Homo sapiens: one gene and its partner. The protein of the gene in region 1 interacts with the protein of each later gene in a pairwise test. Each region holds a gene or a part of one and is shown in the gene's direction. Other genes may lie near its edges.

Evidence for each region. The genes of interacting proteins can lie anywhere in the genome.
Region 2: the proteins of KXD1 (region 1) and LRRC45 interact in binary tests that used the Homo sapiens proteins (3 or more experiments, as listed by UniProt).

Annotation. Positions count from the first base shown.
Region 1 is NC_000019.10:18,564,370-18,567,869, forward strand, and holds part of KXD1 (kxDL motif-containing protein 1), read left to right. Parts: intron 1-499; coding exon 500-652; intron 653-764; coding exon of another isoform or gene 765-825; exon of another isoform or gene 826-840; intron 841-2,762; coding exon 2,763-2,809; intron 2,810-3,500.
Region 2 is NC_000017.11:82,021,956-82,026,104, forward strand, and holds the start of LRRC45 (leucine-rich repeat-containing protein 45), read left to right. Parts: upstream 1-1,349; 5' UTR 1,350-1,688; coding exon 1,689-1,908; intron 1,909-2,322; coding exon 2,323-2,384; intron 2,385-2,737; coding exon 2,738-2,808; intron 2,809-3,044; coding exon 3,045-3,223; intron 3,224-3,423; coding exon 3,424-3,552; intron 3,553-4,149. Other genes in the region: CENPX (centromere protein X), read right to left, coding at 871-906. UniProt on the Homo sapiens protein: Component of the proteinaceous fiber-like linker between two centrioles, required for centrosome cohesion.

The DNA of each region.
Region 1 (3,500 bases):
CCAGCACTTTGGGAGGCCGAGGTGGGTGGATCACGAGGTCAGGAGATCGAGACCATCCTGGCTAACCTGGTGAAACCTCGTCTCTACTAAAAATACAAAAAATTAGCCAGGCATGGTGGCGGACGCCTGTAGTCCCAGCTATACTCGGGAGGCTGAGGCAGGAGAATGGTATGAACCTGGGAGACGGAGCTTGCAGTGAGCCGAGATCGCGCCACTGCACTCCAGCCTGGGTGACGAAGCAAGACTCTGTCTCAAAAAAAGTCTGACTGAATAGAGGTAGACAAGGCTACATGAGAAGGACACACTTGAGTAGGGTTTTGAAGGTTGAATAGGAGTTTGCTAGGTGGCTCAAAGAGTAGGTAGAACTCTGCAGGACAAGGGAACAGCCCATGCAAAGGTTGTGAAGCAGGCAAGGGCTTGGCATGAACAGTCTTCTGGGCCAGGTTGGGCAGGGCCCTGAAGCTGGGCAGTGAAGCTCATGCCCTCTCTCCACCATCAGGCTGGACCGCTTTGAGAAGACCAATGAGATGCTGCTCAACTTCAACAACCTGTCCAGTGCCCGCCTGCAGCAGATGAGCGAACGCTTCCTGCACCACACGAGGACCCTAGTAGAGATGAAACGGGACCTGGACAGCATCTTCCGCCGTATCAGGTGGGTGCTCAGTGCCACCCCAGCCCAGCTGACCTCTGCCTCCACCTCCCCATCTGAGCCTCAGTTTCCTTCACATACCAGGGTAAAGGGAGATTTCTGTTTGTTTTACAAGGCTTCACTGCGCACTTAAGTGTCTGGGACAATTCCAACCCTGGGATAAAATCTTGACGTAAGTTTATTTACTGATTGATTAATTGATCGAGACAGAGTTTTTTTTTTTTTTTTGGAGACGGAGTCTCGCTCTGTTGCCCAGGCTGGAGTGCAGTGGCGCGACCTCAGCTCACTGCAAGCTCCGCTTCCCGGGCTCACGCCATTCTCCTGCCTCAGTCTCCGGAGTAGCTGGGATTACAGGTGCCTACCACCACGCCTGGAGAATTTTTTGTATTTTTAGTGGAGATGGGGTTTCACCGTGTTAGTAGTCAGGATGGTCTCGATCTCCTGACCTCGTGATCCAGCCGCCTTGGCCTCCCAAAGTGCTGGGATTACAGGCGTGAGCCACTGCGCCCGGCCGAGACAGAGTCTTGATCTGTGGCCCTGGCTGGAGTGCAGTGGCGTGATCTTGGCTCACTGCAACCTCTGCCTCCTGGATTCAAGCGATTCTTGTGCTTCAGCCTTCTGAGTAGCTGGGTCTACAGACATACTGTACCACACCCAGCTAATTTTTGTTGTTGTTGTTTTATTTTTGAGGTGGAGTCTTGCTCTGTCGCCCAGGCTGGAGTGCAGTGGTGCAATGTCAGCTCACTGCAACCTCCGCCTCCCAGGTTCAAGCGATTCTCCTGCTTCAGCCTCCTGAGTAGCTGGGACTACAGGCGCATGCTGCCACGCCCAGCTGATTTTTTGTATTTTAGTAGAGACGAGATTTCACCGTGTTGCCCAGGCTAGTCTCAAACTCCTGAGCTCCAGCACTCTGCCTGCCTCGGCCTCCTAAAGTGTTGGGATTACAGGTGTGAGCCTAATTTTTGTATTTTGTGTAATTTTTGTATTTTTTTAGTAGAGACAGGGTTTCCCCATGTTGGCCAGGCTCATCTCGAAGTCCTGGCCTCAGATGATCCATCCACCTCGACCTCCCAAAGTGCTGGGATTATAGGCATGAGCCATCATGCCCAGCCTTGCAGTTTATTTATTCTTAAAAAATGTAACACAGTGCGGCTGGGCGAGGTGGCCCATGCCTGTAATCCCAGCACTTTGGGAGGCCGAGGCAGGCGGATCACGAGGTCAGGAGATCAAGACCATCCCGGCTAACATGGTGAAACCCCGTCTCTACTAAAAATACAAAAAATACTAAAAATACAAAAAATTAGCTGGGCGTGGTGGTGGGCGTCTGTATTGCCAGCTACTCGGGAGGCTGAGGCAGGAGAATGGCATGAACCCAGGAGGTGAGCCGAGATCGCGCCACTGCACTCAAGCCTGGGCGACAGAGCGAGACTCCGTCTCAAAAAAAAAAAAAAAGTAACATAGTGCTAGACACATAATGAAAAGGCAGGAATGGCTGGGCACAGTGGCTCATGCCTGTAATCCCAGCAGTTAGGGAGGCTGACGCAGGCAGATCACCTGAGGTCAGAAGTTTGAGACCAGCCTGGCCAACATGATGAAATCCCGTCTCTACTAAAAATACAAAAAAATCAGCTGAGCATGGTGGCACGTGCCTGTAATCCCAGCTACTTGGGAGGCTGAGGGAGGACAATCATGTGAATCCGGAAGGTGGAGGTTGCAGTGAGCCAGGATGGCACCACTGCACTCCACCCTGGGCGACAGAGTGAGATTCTGTCTCAAAAAAAAAAAAAAAATTTATCAGAGAAGAGGCCACATGTAAGAAGCAGCCTCGCAGGGGGAGCCCCCAGCCAGTGCCTAGGCTCAGAGCACCCAGAGTCTAACTAGTTGGGGGTTGGTGCCTACCTTGGGGCTGGAGGCCGGCTGGTGGGCGACTGTCAGGGCCGTGGCTGCTGGGCCGAGCACCTAGAGAGAGTGAAGATGTGAGGTGATGAACAGTGTGGGGGTTCTCACTCCCGTCTCCCCTTGCCCTCAGCTGGCAGCAGGGGCTTGTGGCCAGCACCAGGCCCAGCCTACCTGCTCAGCAGGTTAAGCCCTGTGTGCCTTCTCTCCCCTGCAGGACGCTGAAAGGGAAACTGGCCAGGCAGCACCCAGAGGCCTTCAGCCGTAAGTGTCACGCAGGGTTCCTGCTCCCGAGCACGTCAGCACTCTCCACCCAGGGCAGGCTTCTGGAAGGCCACCTTGGGGCCTGATACTGAGACCAGGCTGTAATGGGCAGTGGGTCTGGGGAAACCTGGGGTGGGGGCAGGGTCAGGGTGCTGGCCTGGTCCTGTCAGCAGCTGGCAGAGTGGGCACTAGGACGGGAGTCCGTGCCCCGTGGGGAGGCCGCACAGGAGAATGTGGATAAGCAGCATGACAATCCTTATCCCTGTGTGCATTATGAGCCATCTCAGAACAGAGCACGGGCTCATGTGACACCAGCCCCGACATCGTCTCGCCTTCCCTGAGCCCCAGCTTCGAGGATCTGTCCCATGTCCAGCTGTTACCCACAGTCACCCATGGGGTGGGGACTGTGAGTATCACCGTTTCATGGAGAGGGAAACAGAGGCCCAGAGGGGCAGGACTTGAGTTCGCATCTGTCTGGCTAGAGAGCTCGCGTGTTCTCTGGGGTACCATTCCATGTTGCCACCACCTTAAAGGGCTCTGCAGGCTGAGCCTGGGTTCACACCATCTGTTGAAAAGGCCGACAGCTCTCCATCCCAGGGCCTCCAACAGCAGTTTACAGAGCAGGGAGCTGGGCTGAGGGGAGGTCATATACCTAGCCCAGGTAGTGCAGTGAGCCAGGTTCGCCCTCAGG
Region 2 (4,149 bases), on another chromosome or scaffold:
CCCTGCTTCTACAGGGCTGAAGTCCTCCCTCCAGGATGGGTTCACAAGGGCCTGAGACCCTCCCTTCCCAGGCCACAGAGGCCCACGAGGCCCTGCTGACATCGAGGAAGCTCGGTGCCCCAACCTTCAGGTAGAGCAGTAGAAAGGTTCAGAAACCACTCTGCCTGCACCGATGGGGTCCTCTGCACATGGCACCCCCAGAGAGCTCCACTTCCAGGAACAGGGAAGAGCAGGGCACGCCCTCCAGCCTGGGCGGATCCTGGCTCAGACGGCCTAGGTCTGACCCTAGCCCTGCTGAGTCACTTAACGCCCCCGTGCCTCAGTTTCTCCACTGGCAGGTGGGGTTAATCCCTGTCAAGTGTGTGTAACGTGGAGCACCGAAGAAACCACGCGTTCCTAGCCCAGTGCTGGCGCCCACCGGGGAGCAAACAAAAGGGAAACCACTGTGCCTGGCGGCTGGGGTAGGTCCTGCCGGCTCCTCGGGCTGGACGATCTCACTGTCCCCGTCCTGGGGCCTCATCTCCCCTTAACAAAAGACCCCAGGCTCAGGGCGCAGGGCGGCGGCCCAGCTCCTCCTCTCTCTTCGCCGGCTTGGACTCCGCCGTGACGGCGCCCACCCCTGCCTGTTTCTGCAGACCCTCTCCACCTTCCCGCAGCCCCGGCTGCTCCACGCCCCCTCCTACCAGCTGCGAGACACCAGCCCACGAGGGCGCGGGGCGCGCGGCCCGGCCGGAGATGGAGTCTGAGAACGGGCCCAACCTCAAAGGCACAGGGGGCGGCGCGGGGGCTGGCGTCTGGCCCTCACAGTGTCACGCGTGAGGTCGGGACGGAGCGTCCGCGCCTGCCTAGCCCCTGCCCTCCGGCCCTCACCTTCCGGAAGCCGGATCCAGCTCCTGCTCCCTCCATGACCGCAGCCTCAACGCGCGCCCACCGGAACCCCGCCCCGCGCCTCCAGCCAATGAGACCGGAGCGCGCCCCCGGAGCCCCGCCCCGCGCCCCTAGCCAATGAGTCCGAAGCGCCTGCTCTCGGAGCCCCGCCCCCACGTCTCAGCCAATGAGCCCGGAGCGCGCCCTCCAGCAGCCCCTCCCTCACGTCCCGCAGCCAATGAACTTGGAACGCGCCCTCCCGGGGCACCACCCTCACGACCCTCAGCCAATGAGCCCGGAGCATGCCCTCCCGGGGCCCCACCCTCATGCCCCTAGCCAATGAACCTGGAGCGCGCTGCCCCCTCTCAGCTTGCGGCCCGAAAGGCGCGCCAGTTCCTTTGTTCTCATTGGCCCGCACCAAGCGCTGCCTGCGCAGAGCCTGCTAGGAGTTGTAGTTCCCGCGGCCTCTCCCGGCGCGCCTTGTTCTTCCTGGATACTGAGGCCCCGACGCGGCTGTCGCGAGGGCGGGGGTCGGGGCTGCAGGCGGGGCAGGGCTGGGTGGGGGCGCGCGACGCACCTGCCTGCTTCCTGCACGGGTGGTCCCCAAGCACTGCGGGGCCCCAGCCCAAAGCGGACCTTGACTACCGCCCAGCCCCGCGCTCCCAGGACCTCCCGCCCGCGGAGCCCACTCGGATTGCTCTCCGCCCGGGTCGGCGGAGGCCCCGTCTCCTGTACCCGGCGCTGGGACTGCTCCGCACCGCGCGGCTCCCTTTCAGCAGCTGCGGGAGCATGCGGAGGAGGCCCTGCCGGCCCCGCGGGTCATGGAGGAGTTCCGGCGCTCCTACAGCCGCCTGTGCAGGGAGAGTGGGGCCGAGCCCCAGGAGGCTGTCCTGCAGCAGCTGCACCAGCTTCCCAGGGGCCGGCTGGACCTGGCCACGCAAAGCCTGACGGTGGAGACCTGCAGGGCCCTGGGCAAGCTGCTGCCGAGGGAGACGCTGTGCACGGAGCTGGTCCTGAGTGACTGCATGCTCAGCGAGGAAGGTGGGCAGGCGCGGCGGGGTGGATCCCTCTGCTCCTTAGCTGCCCACACCATTGCCTCGGCAGCCCGAGGTCGCTTCCTCTCCAGGCTCTCCAATTTCTGTGCCGTAGTTAAAGCGAGCAGGGGCGCCCCTTCCTGCACCTGGGAGTAGAGGGCAGTTCCTCTGTATGACGGGGGAGAGGCCTTAACATTCGCGGTCTTACCTGGTTCCCCGCGTGCAGAGCCGGCTTGGTGCCTGGCAGGGGCTGCAGGTGTTTCAAACATGACTTCGCAGCGAGACTCTTGGCCAGCGCCAACCCAGACCATCGGGACAGTTGTCCCTTCCTGGGTCTAGGGAGCTGCCCTGAAAAGGGGCCCACGGGGAGGGCCTTGGGGTCAGCAGGGGCAGAGAGTGACCGCCGGCCCCCCTTACACAGGGGCCACACTGCTGCTCCGAGGCCTGTGTGCCAACACCGTGCTGCGCTTTCTGGACTTAAAGGTGAGATACCTGCACTCTTGAGTGTCCGAGTGTGCCACCCAAGGGCAAGAGGAGAGGTGGAAGATGCCAGGTCTCGGGGGCCTGGGGTCTGGGCAGGTGGCTGGAAGCTGTCTGTGAGTCCCCAGGCCGCTCTCTGATGGCCTCCTGTGTGTGACCATCTCCAGAGCAAGAGTTCACATTGGCAAACAAGCCGGCCCTTGGAAGCCCCCTGAAGACAGGGAGCCCAGGAGCTGAGGAAGGCTGCAGGGTGCACCCCAGGCTTGTCCCCTGGCTGACCAAGGCCCTTGGGGCATGGGCGGGAATTCAGAGCCAGTCAGGGCACGCGAGTGACTACCGGCCTGTTTCTCTCCTAGGGCAACAACCTTCGGGCTGCAGGGGCCGAGGCTCTGGGAAAACTCCTCCAACAGAACAAGTCCATTCAGAGGTGGGTGGTGGTCCCGACCCCAGGCCCTGTCTCTGTGTGGTTGAGGATTGGCCCCGAGCACATGCTTCTGCAGCCCAAGAGTTCCCCATTGCCAGGTGCCCATGTTTCACATACGTTGGCAGGGGTAGGCAGAGGCTCCGGCCCATCAGACCCCAAGCCCACACCCGTCCCCAAGCCCTGGACCCCACGGGCTAGGCAGTCCCCTAGGTGAACACTGGCTTCTGCCCCTCCTGCAGCCTCACGCTGGAGTGGAACAGCCTGGGCACGTGGGACGATGCCTTCGCCACCTTCTGCGGGGGCCTGGCGGCCAACGGCGCCCTGCAGCGGCTGGACCTCCGCAACAACCAGATCAGTCACAAGGGCGCGGAGGAGCTGGCCCTAGCCCTGAAGGGCAACACCACCCTCCAGCAGCTGGGTGAGGCCTCCCAGGCGCCCTCAGGCTCCCTCATCCCTCTGAGGCTGCCTCTGCTCTGGGAAGTGAGGGGCTAGGGGACTGGCCTGTGCTCCTGCTCTGTTGATGACTGCAAGGCAGTGCCCCCTAGGGAAGCACCCCGGCCAGGCCAGCTCCCCCTCTGCCAGGTGCATTCTGTCTGGTGACTACAGGTTTCCTTCCAGACCTGCGCTGGAATAACGTTGGCCTCCTGGGGGGCCGGGCCCTCATGAACTGTCTCCCCAGCAACAGAACCCTGTGGAGACTGGACCTGGCTGGGAACAACATCCCTGGAGACGTCCTCAGAGCCGTGGGTACGGTGCAGGGCTGTGTGGAGTGACGCGTGAGCCTTTGACAGAGGCCTGTCCACCGAGGGCGGGGTGCCGGGCTCAGGACGGGAACTGATGAGGAGAGCAGCCTGAGAGCCCAGGGGAAGCAGGAAGGAGCGGAGGGGTCGTGGGGCACCTGTTTGGCACTTGAATGGCGTTCGCCACACATGGGCACTGTCCGAGGCGCCCTGTGTACTTGCTGAGTTCTTAGGACCTGTGCAGTGGAGGGTGCCCGTTTCACAGCTGGGGAAGCTGAGGCCGTGTGGCTCACAGTCCTGGCCTTGGTGGCTTTGCTGATGCTTCGGGTGGCCCAGGTCTTGGCCTTGGCCAGGAAGGCTCCCTGGTCACCCTGAGTCTGTGGCCCTGCATGTGAGTCAGGTGAGGTGGGGCCCCCTGGCTTGTGCTGGCCTCCACACATTCCCTCCCACCAGCGACCCCGAATCCTTGCAGCTGATGTCTCAGCCTCAGGCCCCAGTGCCCCAGACTCAGCTGGGGACTTTGCCAGGCCCCCCGTACTCCCTAATCCGCGCACAGCGGCAGCCTCTTCCAGCCCCTGTGCTGAGGGCTCATCCCTCCTGCTGG